2 separate regions of the Homo sapiens genome follow, and region 1 is linked to region 2. Evidence: fine-mapped expression QTL. A gene starts in region 2. The other region holds a variant in brackets. All regions are shown on one strand. Distances are between the middles of the regions.

Region 1 (8,320 bases), 160 kb after region 2:
GCCATCATCAATCGGAACACAGATCCCCAGTATTTGGAGGATGGGGCTCTTATTGCCTGCTGTGGCTCCTGCAAGCTATAGGGAAGCTACCCCAGAAGTATAGGCATGGCTGCTTGCACCACCAATTTAAATGCTAATTACTTCTGAAAACACCCTCACACACATGCCCAGAAATAATGTGTAACCAGATATGTGTGCATCCAGTGGCCCAGACAAGTTGACATATAGAATTAACCATCACAAGTCCACCCCTTGTCAACCTGGTACCTACACACATCTCCTTAAACCATACTTAACCTCCAAATAAACACAATAACAAAGTCAGTGTTAGCAGTGGAAGGTGTCTGAGTTAGTGGCAGCGAATCCGTATGGGTCTGCAGCAACCTCAATTCTTGCCTCCTCAGAAAAAAGAATTCAACTGGCCGGGCATGGTGGCTCACGCCTGTAATCCCAGCACTTTGGGAGGCCAAGGCGGGCAGACCACGAGGTCAGGAGATCGAGACCATCCTGGCTAACACGGTGAAACCTCGTCTTTACTAAAAATACAAAAATTAGCCGGGCATGGTGGTGGGTGCCTGTTGTCCCAGCTACATGAGAGACTGAGGCAGGAGAATGGCAGGAACCCAGGAGGCGGAGCTTGCAGTGAGCCGAGATCGCGCCACTGCACTCCAGCCTGGGCGACAGAGCAAGACTCCGTCTCAAAAAAAAAAAGAATTCAACTGAGGGGCATAAGGCAGAAAAAGAGACCGAGGCAAGTTTTGGAGGAGGAGTGAAAGTTTATTTAAAAAAGCTTTACAACAGGAAAGAAAGTATTCTTGGAAGAGACCTAAACAGGCACATAAAGGTCAAGTGCGGTGTTTAACCTTGATTCTAGGACTTTATAGACTGACCCCTTTCCCAAGATTCTTCCCCTAGGGTGGGCTGCCTACATGCACAGTGTCCTCCTTACCCTTGGGAGATGAGCACACGCAGTGTGTTTAGGAAACTGTACGCATGCCCATCTGAAGATTTCTTCCGTCCCAGAAGGTCATACTCTGCCATTGTCTCTTAATGCACATGGCCGGGGAAATTGCTTCTCCCTGGTGCCTGCATTCAATTAACACTTTAATGAAACAGGTGTGACCCATCAGGAACTGGCCTCTCCCTGATGCCAGCTGCCAATTTATCACTTTCATTTTTAATTTATTTTTTAGAAGGAGTCTCACTCTGTCACCCAGACTGGAGAGCAGTGGCATGATCTCGGCTCACTGTAACCTCTGCCTCCCAGGTTCAAGTGATTCTCCTGCCTCAGCCTCCCGAGTGGCTGGGATTAGAGGCATGCACCAACATGCCTGGCTAATTTTTGTATTTTTAGTAGAGATGGGCTTTCACCATGTTGGCCAGGCTGGTCTCGAACCCCTGATGTCAAGTGACCCACCCACCTTGACCTCACAAAGTGCTAGGATTACAGGCATGAGACACCATGCCCAGCCCTGGCTTTTTTTTTTTTTTTTTTTTTTTTTGAGACGGAGTCTCGCTCTGTGGCCCAGGCTGTAGTGCAGTGGCATGATCTCGCCTCGCTGCAAGCTCCGCCTCCTGGGTTCACGCCATTCTCCTGCCTCAGCCTCCAGAGCAGCTGGGACCACAGGCGCCCACCACCACGCCCAGCTAATTTTTTGTATTTTTAGTAGAGACGGGATTTCACTGTGTTAGCCAGGATGGTCTCGATCTGACCTCATGATCCGCCCGCCTTGGCCTCCCAAAGTGCTGGGATTACAGGCGTGAGCCACTGTGCCCAGCCGCTAATTTTTTATTTTTTATTGTTTGTAGAGAGGGGGTCTCCCTATGTTGCCTAGGCTGTTTTGTTTTTTTTTTTAAACAGAGACAGGGTCTTGCTATGTTGCCCAGGCTGGTCTTGAACTCCTGGGCTCAAGCAGTCCTCCCATCTTGGTTTTCCAAAGTGCTAGGATTACAGGCATGAACCACCAGGCCCGGTCTCCACTGTGAATCTTTTTTTTTTTTTTTTGAGACTGAGTTTCACTCTTGTTGCCCAGGCTGGAGTGCAGTGGCACCATCTCGGCTCACCGCAACCTCCGCCTCCTGGGTTCAAGCAATTCTGCTGCCTCAGCCTCCTGAGTAGCTCAGATTACAGGCATGCACCACTACGCCCAGCTAATTTTTTGTATTTTTAATAGATACAGGTTTTCACCATGCTACCCAGGATAGTCTTGATCTCCTGACCTCATGATCCACCTGCCTCAGCCTCCCAAAGTGCTGGGATTACAGATGTGAGCCACCGCACCCGGCCGCTAATGTTTTATTTTTTATTGTTTGTAGAGACAGGGTCTCCCCATGTTGCCTAGGCTGTTTTTTGTTTTGTTTTGTTTTGTTTAACAGAGACAGGATCTTGCTATGTTGCCAAGGCTGGTCTTGAACTCCTGGGTTCAAGCAGTCCTCCCATCTTGGTCTCCCACCCAAAATGCTAGGATAGGCGTGAACCGCCAGGCCCGGTCTCCATTGTGAATCTTTTTTTTTTCTTTTTTTTTTTTTGAGACTGTGTTTTGCTCTTGTTGCCCAGGCGGGAGTACAGTGGTGCGATCTCGGCTCACCGCAACCTCCGTCCGCCTCCTGGGTTCAAGCGATTCTCCTGCCTCAGCCTTCCTGAGTAGCTGGGATTACAGGCATGCGCCACCATGCCTGGCTAATTTTGTATTTTTAGTAGAGATGGGGTTTCCCCATGTTGGTCAAGCTGATCACGAACTCCCGACCTCAGATGATCCACCCGCCTCGGCCTCCCAAAGTGCTGGGATTACAGGCATGAGCTACCGCGCCCGGTTTACCATTTTGAATCTTAAGAGGACAAAGTCTGGTTCTCTAGAAGGCCCGAGTAGCTTTTCCCCTGAGCATCTTGAGAAAAAAGTGCTCTGAGCACTCCTTGGGAAGTCCGAGACAGCACATGCAGCCAGGTGCTCCCTGGCTGCTCTCCCAGAGGTCAGCACAGCTGGAGGCAGCTGGAGGGAGGAGGCTGCAGAGGCGCTGAAGCCAGGAAGACCCAACAGTGGAGAGAGAAGTTGCCTGGTGACTGACCCTCGGCTTGACCCTGTGCTCCCCTGGGCTGAGCTGGGTGTCAAAAGGCCTCCACCCTCCAAAGTGCCAGCCTCCTGCTGTGGCTGGAAAGCATTTGCTCCTCCTCCTCTTCTCACTTCTTTGCATTCTTCTGATCTCTTAAGGGCGTACAAAGATTCACATGGATATTAAAGTCAATGGTGATTTTCATAGCTGGAATACTCGTTGGGAGAAAGTAGGAATTCTTTTTTTTTTTTTTTTCTCCCAAGCTCAAGCGATCCTCCCACCTCAGCCTTCTGAGTAGCTGGGACCACAGGTGTGAGCCTCCATGATGGCCTGGCTAATTTTTTATATTTTTAGTAGAGATGGGGTTTCACCATGTTGCTCAGGCTGGTCTCAAACTCCTGAGCTCAGGCGATCCACCTGCCTCGGCTTCCCAAAGTGCTGGGATTACAGGCGTGAGCCACTGTGCCTGGCCAAAAGTAGAAATTCTTGATTGGGAAATAATTTTATATATTTCGGCCCCTTCTCACTTGGGAAAATTCTGCTAAGAATTCTGGTTTTGAGAGTCAAGGGAAGCTAGCTTAATTTTTAAAGTGAAGGCTACATAAGAGTCCTCTCTCCAGTGTGGTGGCTCACACCTATAAACCCAGCGCTTCGGGCAAATCACTTGAGCCCAGGAGTTCAAGACCAGCCTGGCAATGTAGTGAGACCCCTATCTCTACAAAAAAATTTAAAAATTAGCAGGGTGTGGTGGTGCGTGCCTGTAGTCCTGGCTACTTGGGTGGGATGCTGATGTGGGAGGATTGCTTGAGCCCAGGATTTGGAGGTTGCAGCGAGCCATGATGGTGCATTGCACTCCAGCCTGGGCAACATGGCAAGACCTCGTCTCAAAAAAATACAAAGAGTCCTCTCTATGTTGGAAATGTCAGAGTTATTGGCCATTTAGGGGATCTAACTTGCTCTTTGATGTCCAAGAGGAAAGGTATAGAGTTCTCCTGATTACACAGGGCCTCTGCTTGTGGGTCGCCTGCATGAGGCGATCAGAATCTGAGTCACCTGGGATCATGTGGGTGCTGGTACATCCTAGAGATAGGATGTGTTGGTCATGGAAGAGAGTGGGCCACAAATGGGTTCCAGGGGAATAGCGTTGCCTGGTGCAAGGAGGGGGATGTGGAGGTGCAGGGAGCAGGGGTGGTGTCTGGAGAGCCTGAAGCTGTGCTGCCAGAGGCTCCAGGCCATGAGGTCTGAGAAGCATCTAGATTTGGCCTGTTCACAGCAGGGAAGTGTGGTCCAGTGGCAAAAAGTTGAGGGCATCCTAGGAGTTGAGGAGGTGGTGGCGGTTAGAGTAAACCACTCTGGAGGCGTCCGGGGTGGAGAGACGAGAATGTGCAAGAACTCCTGCCTCTAGCCTGGCCTCCTCAGGACCCCGGCCACCAGCCTCCCTCCTAGAAGTCCCCAGAGCTTCCTCCTCCTTGTGCCCCAGAACTGGTTCCTGGGTTGCTCCAACCCCAGACCTTCCCTGGAAGTCCCCCCCAGTGCCTCCTGGCTGGGAACCCCCAACTGCATTTTGCTTCTGCTCTCGTGCCAGTAGTCCCCTTTTCTCTCCAGTGTCCAGGCCCCAACCACCAAGACCCTGCCTCCTCACTTGGCTTTGCTGTTCTTAGTTCTCTACTCAGTAGGTTGTGTCTGCCTCCATTCCTGGCCAGACGCTGCCCTGGGGCTGAGTGCACAGTCCCCAGCCACTCCCGAGATCCTCAGAGCTTCTGGAAGCCACAGACATGGTGGCATATGTTTCAGGTCGTCAGCTTGTTTTTTTTTGGAGACAGAGTCTCGCTCTGTCGCCCAGGCTGGAGTGCGGTGACGTGATCATTCACTGCAGCCTTGACCTTCTGAGCCCGGGTGATCCTCCCACCTCAGCCTGTCAAGTAGCTGAGACCACATGTGTGAGCCACCACACCTAGCTTTTTGAATCTTTTTTTTTTTTTTTTTTGAGACGGAGTCTCACTCTGTCACCCAGGC[T/C]GGAGTGCAGTGGCACAATCTTGGCTTACTGCAACCTCCAGCTCCCAGGTTCAAGTGATTCTCCTGCCTCTCCCGAGTAGCTGGGATTACAGGTAGGTGGCACCACACCTAGCTAATTTTTATGTCTTTAGTAGAGACAAAGTTTCACCATGTTGGCCAGGCTGATCTTGAACTCCTGACCTCAGGTGATCTGCCTGTCTTGACCTCCCAAAGTGCTGGGATTACAGGCGTGGGCCACGCGCCCAGCCAACTTTTTGAATCTTTTGTAGGGATGGGGTCTTGCTGTGTTGCCCAGGCTGGGCTTAAACTCCTGGACTCAAGTGATCCTCCCTGCCTTGGTTTCTCAAACTTCTGGGATTACAGGCCAATCTACTCAACGTTGATATTGAGTAGAAGGCAAAATTCACATGGCTCCGGCCCAGCCCCTTTCTGTCTCAGGCACTTCAGTGTTAATATGCGCCTTGGTTTTGCTGCTGCCGAGTCTACTGTGCCCCTGGGCAAGGAAAGCAAAGGAAACCAGAGGGCCAGGCCCGTGGACACTGGGGTGAGGGGCCAACAGGGTGCCCAGCAGTTGTTTCCACAGCCCCCACGTGGTCAGGGACCCTGTATGGGTGAACCGCCTGGATACTGAGCCTAGGCGGCGGAAAACTCAAAAGCAAGGGCAGGTTTATTCAGATCCCTGGTGGAGTTACAAGCTTGGTTTGGTTTTTGGTCACAGGCCCTAAAATACCTGTATTCTGAGTTTACATAAAAATACAAAGCACTGGCCGGGCGCGCTGGCTCACACCTGTAAGCCCAGCACTTTGGGAGGCTGAGGTGGGTGGCTAACATGAGGTCAGGAATTTGAAACCAGCCTGACTAACATGGTGAAACCCCATCTCTACTAAAAATACAAAAATTAGCTGGGCATGGTGGCGCATGCCTGTAATCCCAGCTATTCGGGAGGCTGAGGCAGGAGAATCACTTGAACCTGGGAGGCGGAGGTTGCAGTGAGCCATGATCGCACCGCCGCACTGCAGCCTGGGCTACAGAGCAAGACTCTGTCTCAAAAAAAAAAAAAAAAAAATCACCACCGAGACGCTGTTCTCCCTGGTGTGTCATCTGTGGGGTGAATGAAGGTGTGAGATACCCCGTGGTGGTTTCTGTCAGTGAATCTGTAGTTGTCATATATTTTGAATACTTCAATATCATCGAACAGTTGCTGTGTCTTTAAGCACTAGATTTTATTGAAGCTACCTTCTTCCCTTTTTAGTCCCATTTCCCCTAGATGCATCCACGACTGCAGGAACCCCCCTGCCCCCACCAGGAGCCCAAAGATAACCATGTTCCCACCTGGAGTGGCCTCCCACCTCCAATGCCATCAGGGCTGGTGCAGCTTCCCCACCTGGTCAGCAACATCATGGCCAAGGAGTAGAGGGCGTAGCCCAGGGTGAACAGCAGTGCACAGGTGAGGGGCCTGATGCAGAACAGAGAGGCCATGAAGAAAGCCAGCAGTAGCCAGGGCAGTGTCAGGTAGCTGCCTAGGAAGTGCAGGTTGAGCCTGTGGCCGCTGGCCAGCGTGGGCTCTGTGAGGTGGTAGCAACAGAAGCTGGCAAGGAAGTCATCTCAGGAACACAGAGCCGCCATCTGGTCTGCAAACTGAAGCGCAGGCAGTGGCACGGGGGCATGGGGTGGTGGCACCACAGGCCTCAGGACAGCTGCACCCCACCCCCACAGGCCACCCTGAGACTGCACCCCAGGCAGGAGCACCCAGAACCCTCTCTGAAGAGGCCAGGCCAGCCCTCCTGCCCACTCACTCTGTGTTTGATGGCAGATGACAGCCGGAAGGATGCTCAGACCAAGCTGGTAATCTCATAACTCCAGAGGGGCTGCAGCTCCGGGTCCCCCTGGTACTCAATTTCAAACCTTTGCAGCCTGTTGATGATCTAGAAACCCAGGCTATAGGGTTGGGCCAGAAAACATGGCCCTGGCCAGGTGCAGTGGCTCATGCCTGTAATCCCAGCACTCCGGGAGGCCGAGGCGGGCGGATCACAAGGTCGGGAGTTAGAGACCAGCCTGATCGATATGATGAAACCCCGTCTCTATTAAAAATACAAAAATTGGCCAGGTGCAGTGGCTCACACCTGTAATCCCAGCACTCTGGGAGGCTGAGGCAGGTGGATCACGAGGTCGGGAGATCAGGACCATCCTGGCTAACACTGCGAAACCCCGTCTCTACTAAAAAAAATACAAAAAAAAATTAGCTGGGCTTGGTGGCGGGCACCTGTAGTTCCAGCTACTCAGGAGGCTGAGGCAGGAGAATAGCGTGAACCCAGGAGGTGGAGCTTGCAGTGAGCCGAGATTGCGCCACTGCACTCCAGCCTGGGCTACAGAGCAAGACTCCGTCTCAAAAAAAAAAAAAAGTTAGCCAGGCATGGTGGCATGTGCCTGTAATCCCAGCTATTCAGGAGGCTGAGGTGGGAGAATCGCTTGAACCCAGGAGGTGGAAGTTTCAGTGAGCCAAGATCATGCCACTGCACTCCAGCCTGGGCAAGAGAGGGAAACCTTGTTTCAAAAAAAAGAAAGAAGAGAAAAGGAAACATGGCCCCTGCACACAACTCAGAAGAGCCAAGCCATCTCTGCTCACAGGGGAGGAGGGAGCTGGGGACACGTCAGGGCCCAACCCATGCACCTCTGGGACTTGGGCCTCTCACCTGGTACTGGCCCAGGGGCGTGGGGATGAGTCTGTCCTCACCCGCGATGCAGTCCGGAGCTGCTTCTTTCCATTCTCATCCTGGATGGTGTCCAAGGCAAGTGTGAGAGACTCTGCGTGAGCTGCACTTCACTGAGCTACCAGAGAGAGAGAAGCTCCTCTGCCCTCAGTGTCAAGGCAAAGGAACACCAGTCTTCACCCCACCAGCCTCTAACAGTGGCAACGAGAGCACCCGGACATGACACTCGGGGTGTGGGCCTGCCTCCCACAACACCGGGTTCATCTGCATGGGGCCTGGGACGGATGCATGCTGACCATGGGCAAAGGGGGAGTGGATCCTTCGGGGAAGGGGACCCTAACGGCCGTGGAACAGGCCCCATTGCTCATACTCGGAATATCTGGCGCAGGTACGCCAGGGCCTCCTCCAGGCACTCGTCCATCTTCTGGACGCTGTCCTGCCCCATCTCGCCCAGGTCATGGCTGAATAGGAGCCGTTGGTGTCTGTGGGGCCAAAGCCCAGCCACAACAGGAAGGAGTGGCCAGCTGGAGTCTCCACACACT
Region 2 (8,320 bases):
CTGAGTGAAGCCATGATGGCTAGAGAGGGTTCGTAGGGGATGAGCTGGGGTTAGCCCACATTCAGGGGCAGAGGAGGCTGAGAAGGAAGAGCCACCAAGGCTGCGGGATCCTAGGTTCCCAGCCGACCCAGAACTTCGCCTCGATCCTAAAGGCATGTAACAGCCATTCGCACTTTAGAGAAAAGGAGCACGCTTCTTCACAAGCAGGCTTGGATTCAGTATCTGAATCTAGAACCGGAAGGTGGTGGGGGGCGGAGTTTGGGAGGAAGCCTGAAGACCCTAGCGGGATGGGATAGACTGGCCCTACACCATGCATTTCAGGATAGTACATGCCTGGCATGCTCCTGCCCAGGCTTCCGAGGATGCCCCAGCCATTCCCCAGCTAGACAGAATACCACCCCTTGTACAGAGCACCTAGGCCTCGAGGCCCCTCCTCCTGAACAAGGCTTGGTTCTCCTTCAGGCCAAAGATGGGACCTGGCGAACAGGACCATAAAATCTCAAACTTTGGGGAATTGGTCCAGTGTATTTTCCACAATAAAACTGGAAACCAGAGACAGGAATACAAAGGCCTGGCTTTTCCTGGCCCCTGCCCCCACTGTCTCCACCCACCCAGCCCTGACCCAGGGGGCACCAAGGTGCCCATCTGCAGGGAGACCCAGGTCTGCTGGCCATCACCCACCCACTTGTGTCTGCTTCTGAACCATGTTCACTGGATGGAGAGCCTCTGCAGGTGTCCCTCCTGTGGGGAGCTTTGCCAGGTGGCCTGCTGGAATTGCCCCGGAAGCACTAACCCCCTTCTGCCCTGGACATAAGGCTCTGTGGCTAGGACCCTCGTTTTAGGGCCACACTCAGCTGGGTTTGATGTCTGGGTTTGCCACTTGCTGTGTGACCTCAGGCATGCAGCTTAAGCTCTTTGAGCTTCAGGCTCCTTAGCTATATAGTAGGGCTCTACTGTAGAAAGATTAAGAGAGCCAAGATGTTTTTTTGCCGGGCGTGCTGGCATGTACCTATAATCCCAGCTACTCAGGAAGCTGAGGCAAGAGGATTGCTTGAGCCCAAGGAGTTTGAGGCTGCAGTGAGCTGTGATGGCACCACTGCTCTCCAGCCTGGGCAACAGAGTGAAACCCTGTCTCAAAAAGAGAGATAGAGATAGGAGAGAGAGAGAGACAGAGAAAGACGACAGAGAGAAAGAGAGCGCGCGCCAAGACCTATGAAGTGGTTTGGCACATACTAAGCACAAAGGATCCTGAGCACAGGCTGCAGTGCCTCTGAGTGCACTCGGTCATCTCTGGTTTAGCGGGCACCCAGGCCTAACCCCAGCAGAGCTAATGCCCACCAGCAGGACAGAGTCCATTTGGGTTCACTGAGAACAAGATGCTTTCCTTCTTGGAAGGGCTGGCAGAAAAGGCCGGGTGGTGGTGGCAAGCCCACTCTCTGAAGATCTTACAAAGACGGGTGGGGAAAGATGGCCTGCTGCAGGGCTGCTCCCACGCTTGCCCTGTAAGTCGGCAAGACCCTCAGAAGCCAGGCCATAGGCTGGGCCCAGGCCCCTCAGCAAGCAAGACATGCCGTAGGCTTCTCCCTCGTAGAGCATTAGTTCTGTGATTCAAACCCACTGTGAGTTCTTACATCTTCAAGTTGGCTCATGGGGTCCATACCTGTCCATGTTCTCCCCCAAATCCAGGCAGAAAAGCTTCTCTGCCTGCCACACCCTTCAGACCCCACACCAGCCCGACCCTCCTGCTGCCCCGCCTGGACACCTCTCCTCTGGTTTCTGTCCCCATCCTCAGATCTCTCTTGTGTCCACACTAGCTCCCTCGGGAAGCTCACTGAACACTGACAACACCTTGGACCCTCCAGCAGGGCTCTCCCCATCAATGCTAGACTTGCAAATCCAACTGCCCAATAGATGATGTCACCAGAAGGAGACCTCATGGGCCTCATGCCCAACCAGCCCAAACCTGAACTCTTGACCTCCTTGCACCCTGAGTCTTCCCTGCCTCAGATAACCCTGCCTGTCCTTTCAGGCTGGGAAGCTGAGACCTGGAGAAGCATCTCTGACTCTTCTTTCTTGTCTACACCAGATCCATTGAGAAAAAAGACGCTGAGCTCTAGCTTCTAAACGATATCTAAAATGGGATCACTTCCTCCTTCCCTATCCCAGCCTTGTGAGAGCCACCCTCCATCTCCCTGGCTTTTTGTAACTGGCCCCAGCTTCCACCCCCTGCCCCCCAGGGTGCGAAGTGTTTGCCACCTGGCAGCCAATCCTGGTCAGATCCCACCCTTTCTCTGTACAAAGCCCCCAGGGGGTCCCATGGCCCTCAGAAGAAAAGCCCAAGTCTTCTGAGCAGTGGCAGCCCACGGTGGCCTGCCCACCCTCACTCTCTGGCAGCTCCTCCGCCAGCCCCTCCTGGACTCTGCCCAGCCTCCTGGATCCTTCCTGTACTTCCACAGGCCCTCTGCCTTGGGAACCTTGCCCCAGACACCCACAGGGCCTCCGTGCTCTTCTGCAGGCCTGTGCTCACTCACCACCTTCTCAGCCGTTCTCCTCAGAACACCCTAAAGGAAACAGCACTCCCCAACCCAACACCTCCCAGCTCTTGCTAGATGTCTAGACACACTTGCTTTTCTGGACTGTGTCTCCTCTGCCACAGGGTCAGGGTCTCCACTGCAGCTTCCCTACACCAATACAGGCCTGGCACAGTGTAGGTGCATAGGATTTTACTGGCTTTGCACTCTCCTCTCCCCATCCTCCTGCCTCCCAGGAAAGGGAAGGGCTGATGGAAGCCTTGCAAGATGTGGGAGGACAACAAAGACATGACCCAGACCCCAGGTGGGCAGTGCCCAGAGTGGCTGTCCTTCCCATCGACCCTTGCCACTCATGACCACAGCGATCTCCACTTAGCCCCATGAGGGGGTTGTGATCACTATCCCATTTTACAGAGGTGGAGACAGGCCCAGAGAGGTCAAATGACTTGCCCAGGTCCACACAGCTGGGTAGGGTGGCACCAGGATGGGAACCCAAACCCAGGCTCGGTTCCTGGAGCAGGCGCCTCCTGGGAGGTCTGCAGACCAGGGGAGCGGGAGCAAAGGGCTCTCAGGCTCCGGACAGCTAGAGCCTGGCACCGGACCCCCATTCCTGGTCCCGGGCCTGTCTGGGAAAGAGGGCTGGAGTGAGTAGACAGAGACCACGGCGATCGCGCCCTCCCCCTCTCCAGGCACCGCCCCGCCCGCCGCCGCCGCTGCATTCCTGGGGCCGGGGAGGCCCGGGAGTCCGCGGCGGCGGCATCGATGCGAAGCAGATGGCGGGCCAGGCCGGCCCCCGCCCCGGAGGCGGGGCTCGCAGCGGGGAGGGGTCTGCGCGCCTCCGGACCAGAGTTCGGAAACCCCGCGCTGCCCCCTCGCAGCCCCTTGTCTCTGGCGCCGAGCCCCTGGACTCGGCTTGCCCCGGGTCCGTGGCTCAGGCGCCCCGACGCGACCCAGCTCGGAGCCCGGCGGCCGCCTCTGCGGCTGCCAGCCCGTGCGGCGTCTCCAATCCGCGCCAAGGCGCCCCCACACGCCCGCTCCTCACCCCTGCGTGGAGATGCCCTTGACCTTGTGGCCTTTGGCCAGCCCACCGGCTCCCCCGACCCCAGCTCCTAACTCCTGGCGTCCGGGGCTCACCTCTCTGCCCTCCGTGCAAACTCCCGGACTCGCCCCCCCACCGGCCGGGCCTGTCGCCTGCCTGTCCCACACTGGCTTCCCCAGCCGGCGCCCCACATTTGCGCGGCCCCTTCTTGCACCCAGAATCCCCACCTGGTTGTCGCCAGGGTTCCCACATCCTCCGGTCCCCTGTGCCTGTCATAGTCCTTCCGCCTCCCGCTTCTGGTCCACTTCGAGCGCCGGCTCCTCGACGCTCGCCTGGGTCACCACCCTCCCACCCGCGCCCGCTCTAAGACGCGAATCTGTCTTTCCAAGTCTGGCTTGCTCCAGGACCTCCCCGGCTAGCACCGCTCCTCCTCCCCTGACCTTCCTCCTCACTCCCACTCCCGGCTCCAGTCGGACTAGTGCGGGGCTTTAGCACATGCAGTTCCTTTGGCTTGAATGCCCTTCCCCAGCTTTTCCCCGTGGACTTCACAACTCGGTCAAGGGTCCCTTTTTCCAGGTCTTTCCTGATATCCCGGACAACGCGTGTCATCCCCTGGGTGCCCACGGCACTCCATCCTCCCCTCAGGTGACTTCTCGTCCAGGGTTCCCTGGGATGCACTGTCGTGGCCCATGGCCGAGGCTGGGCCTGGAACGGAGCCGCGCTGGCTAGGGAGCCGAAGGGGCCCACACTTGGCGTAGGAAGGTTCCGGTAGCCCCCTCCCAATGCCCGGCGCCGCCACACCACTGCCCAGAGCGTCCCTCTCGCCCCCTCCCCCAGCCAGGCCGGCTCCTACCCGGGAGCACGGCACACGTTGCGGCCGCGAGGGTTCAGTTCCTGAGGCGCCACGGTGTCCGGCAGCATCCAGAGCAGCAGCAGCAGCAGCAGCGACGGCAGCAGCGGTGACGGCGGCCCCCCGGCTCCCCGGCGCCGCGCCGGCCCGGCCCCCCGGGGCCCTGCGCCCTCCATGAGGCGCGGGGCAGGCGCGGGGCGGGCACGGGCGCGGGTGCGGCCGCAGCGAGAGCGGCCGGAAGCGGAGTGCGAGGCCGGGCGGGGGGCGGCAGGAGGGGCGCCGAGCCGGGCAGGAAATTCCACATCGGCTCCCTGATCCCGGGCCAGCCGCGGCCGGCCAGGCGGCAGCGCCCGCCCCGCGCTCCAGACCCCACCCTCCGGCCTAGCCACCGCCCCTCCGCGCAGCCCCCGCCCCCATTTGGCCGCTCGCAAACTTGGGGGCGAACTTGGAGGAGGCCCGCCGAGCGCTGGTGGAGGGAGGGTCCGCCCGAGGAATCCCCGGTTCCCGCGCCTTTCCCTCCGCTCCCTAGACATCTACCGAAGCAGCCGCCCCTGCGCGCCCACTGCGTAGGCCAGGCCCGGGACGGGAAGGCGGATCGGGGACACGGACGCGACTCCGCAAGCCCACCCCCGCTCCCAGCGCCTCGGAACCGGCCAAGGGAGTGGGGCCCGCAGACAGCCCAGGTCGAGGCCGAAAGCCAACTCCACAGCACCCCACCGCGAAGTCCTTGTAGTGCTGGGGTGTGCGGTCAGCTCCCCCTGCGCACTCCTGCGCACTCAGAGCTCGCAAGGGGCGGACCGAGCAGGATGCTTGAGGCCTGTGGTAGACTCGGTCCGGACCAGAGGCCTGGGGGAAGGGGTCTCCGTAGGGACGGATGGGAGAGATACAGAGGAAGTAGAATGGCCAGGCTGTGGACTGCGGTAGGAAGTAGAGGTAAAGACAGAAGGAGACCCCCGGGATGGAAACCCTGCAGTCCTAGTTGAGGAGTGAAGGGGGCTGGGGGAGCCTGGGCGGTGGATTCTGCTGGCTGTCGGATTTCCAGGAGAGGCTGGGGCTAGAGAGTGGGAACTCCTGCATCAGGTAAGGTGGGTAACAGCACAGAGCAGAAGGAAGGTGTGGGAAGGGAGCAAGACAGAGGGACAGGCCCTAGGGAGCCAGCGGGGAAGCTGGACTTGGACTGGGAGGCAGCAGGGTGCGGGTCCCCGGGGGGCAACTGGGGCAGACCGACTCTGGAAGTTGGGCAGGGAGCACAAATGTCCCGTGTGTAGCCAGGTCCTAGTGAGGATGTTTGTCTTTTGGGGACTTGAGAGCTGGCAGAAGGCCTAAGCAGGGAGCGGGCACCTCCGTTCTTTGGGGAGCAGGCCACATGCGGCCCACAGGCTCACTGAGGGAGGGCAGGCAGACTCTGTCCAGGTGTGGCCAGATAGCCCCGAAGGGTGGGGCTGGAGGAGGGGGCTTGGAGGAGGAGCCACTGAAAGGCCCAAGGCCATGGGCATCACCAGGCTGGCACAGGCAGAGAGTGGGATGGGGAGGAGCAGGCCCCTCACTCAGCCATGCTGGTGCAGGAGGGAGGTGGGGTGGGCTGAAAGAGAAGTGGAACTAGTGTGGACACGAATGCAACTACCTGGGGACAAATAAACAGGCCAACCACTTCTGGGCAGCTCAGCCTGGGCACAGCCCTGACCTCAGCAATGCCCTCCCAGTGCTGGGGCCCCTCCCACGGAGGATCCGGATTGCGGCTCCCAATAGAGGCCAGCAGAGGTCCCAGTGGCTGCAAGGTCTGTCCCAGCCCAGCTCCTGGCTTTAGAGGCACTGACCCCCTGGGCTGGAGGGGACACTCACCTCAGCTGGATGGAGGTCATGAATAGGCATATCAAATTCCATCACCTTTCTCCTTCCCCCAGACCTGTCCAGGGAGGGCACCACCTGGATGGTGCCCCCCAATCCCCCAGGACCTCCTAAATGTCTTAGATCTCTGCCCACCCCTGTCTGCCACCCAGAGTAGTCTTTTTAATCTCACATGTGGCTATCCACCACTGCTCTCAGGATGAGGACCATCCCCAGTCTCACCTCACGACCCGGTACATACATCCCTTGCAGTAGATGGCAACTTTGGGTGTCATGGGCAGAGCCCTCATTTCTCCCAACCACCACTGCACCCCTAGGGGAAGACTGAGAAGTATGGGAGGAATGAAGGATCATCCACATGGCACTAGGATGTAGAAGGAACCCACAGACAATTGACCACCACGCAGGCAAACTGCTGGAGCCCGGAGCCCTGGCCTGCTGGTTTTGGCCAGGATGGCTGCCAGAAGGAAGTGGACTTTGAAGGCTGAGGAGGGTTTTGCATGAAAGCAGGGACCAAGAGCCTAGCCACACTGGAGAGCACAAGTTGGGCTGCCTCAGCTCCGGGGTATCAGGTGTAACCCTTAGAAACCCAGCTTAGCCCCAAGGCTGACAGTGGCAGGGCCAGGCTGCGCCCAACTCCAAGGCACTCTCCACCCCTCCCCAGGCTGTGCAGGACCTCAGTGAGCCCTTCCTGCCCCTGCAGACCAGAGGCCTCCTGCAAACCTGTGGCTGTGGCTGGTGGCTCAGGTGAGATGTTGCCAGCCAGCATGTTGTCAGGACGCACTGGAGAGTGGTGGGGCATGTCTGGTGCTCCTCCTTTCCAGAAACCTCTGAGGTCTGCAGGAGCTATTGCCCTGGCCTGCCAGGTGGTAGCAGAGACACAGGAAGTGCTGGGTCTGAGACCCACAGAGTGGGGTTCCTACTCTGAACCCATGCTCTTGCGCCTCACCCTCAGGAGAAAGGGAGATGACACTGGAGTGTATAGCCATCCCGCCCCACTAGGGCTCAACACTGGGTCTGCCACCCCAAGGCAATGTCATGTTTCCTCAGGGGTACTCAGGGCCCAGGACAGTGAGGAAGGTCTTCAGGTTACACACACACCCACATACCACAGCCCTGGGGGCACAGGCCAACTCTGAGGGCTTTGTCTCTACCCTCAAGAATCCTTGGGGTATCCATTTAGGAGAGCCCAGAGTGACTGATAGTCCCCCGTCCCCATCCCCTCTCCTCCCATCAAGGAGCACACACTGCCCCCTTCTCTTCCGGGACAGGATGCCAGCAGGAACACATGGCTGTCCCCATGCTCTGCCCAGTCAACTGGGAAAGGATGGGGCCTTGGCAAGTTACAGCCCTGTCTGCGGGATGGCTCTGGGCACAAGGCTCATAGTAGGAGTCTGCAGGTGCAGACCCTATGAGGGCATCAGGATGGAAGAAAGCTTCGTGTGGTGCAGCCCTGCAGTGAGGCTGGTGTGGGCTCACAGCCCATCCATGCAGGGTGCAGGCTAAGCCTGGCAGTCTCAAGAGGGCAAGAAAAGCATGGGGACAGGTGAACAGGGGAGGGTCCCAGCTGCTGTGCCAGTGTGGTCCTTGAGACTGGGTGCCTAAGGGTTACCTGGCAAACCTGTAGCACATGCAGCTCCCCTCCCCAGCACACTCAGCTTCAGGAGGTTGGGAGGAGCCGGGCACAGGCCAGAGGGGCCCCCCCCACCGACCCCCTGATGCTGCCCCGCTCCCAGGTGCTGAAGCTCTGGTTCCCTGACCCTCAGGCTGAGAGACTCCTAACGAGCTGGGCTGAAACTCTGCGTGCTGCCCTGGTTGGGAGACAAGTTCCACACCAGAGAAGACACTCAAGTGGCTGCACAACCACCTGTCACCAGACCAGGGCGAGTTCCAGCTTTCCCACTGAGTGCCCTGTTAGCTTGTGGAGTTTACTGTGCTTCCCTCTCAGGCAGGGTCTTCCCAGTGCCACTTGGCTTCTGGCCTGGGCTTCCACAGCCTCTCCCAGATGGCAGCTCTGACCCCAGAAGCCACGCTTCCTGGGGACGCAGCTTG

What was found. PIP is the estimated chance that this variant, and not a neighbour inherited with it, causes the effect.
Region 1: its variant is fine-mapped to the expression of SCARF2 in monocytes (TOPMed, PIP above 0.99).

What each region holds. Positions count from the first base shown.
Region 1 is chr22:20,596,168-20,604,487 of GRCh38, forward strand. It overlaps the pseudogene CCDC74BP1. Among named protein-coding and RNA genes, the nearest start is that of MED15, 93 kb to the left of the region's middle. RefSeq lists a silencer at 4,320-4,510. The variant T/C (reference allele first, on the strand shown) is at 5,068.
Region 2 is chr22:20,433,159-20,441,478 of GRCh38, forward strand. It overlaps SCARF2 (scavenger receptor class F member 2), which reads right to left and starts at 4,667. Exons shown (of 11, transcript NM_182895.5): 1 at 4,424-4,667. The coding sequence starts at 4,596. LOC107985588 (a long non-coding RNA gene) reads left to right here and starts at 4,838. Exons shown (of 2, transcript XR_001755623.2): 1 at 4,838-5,353.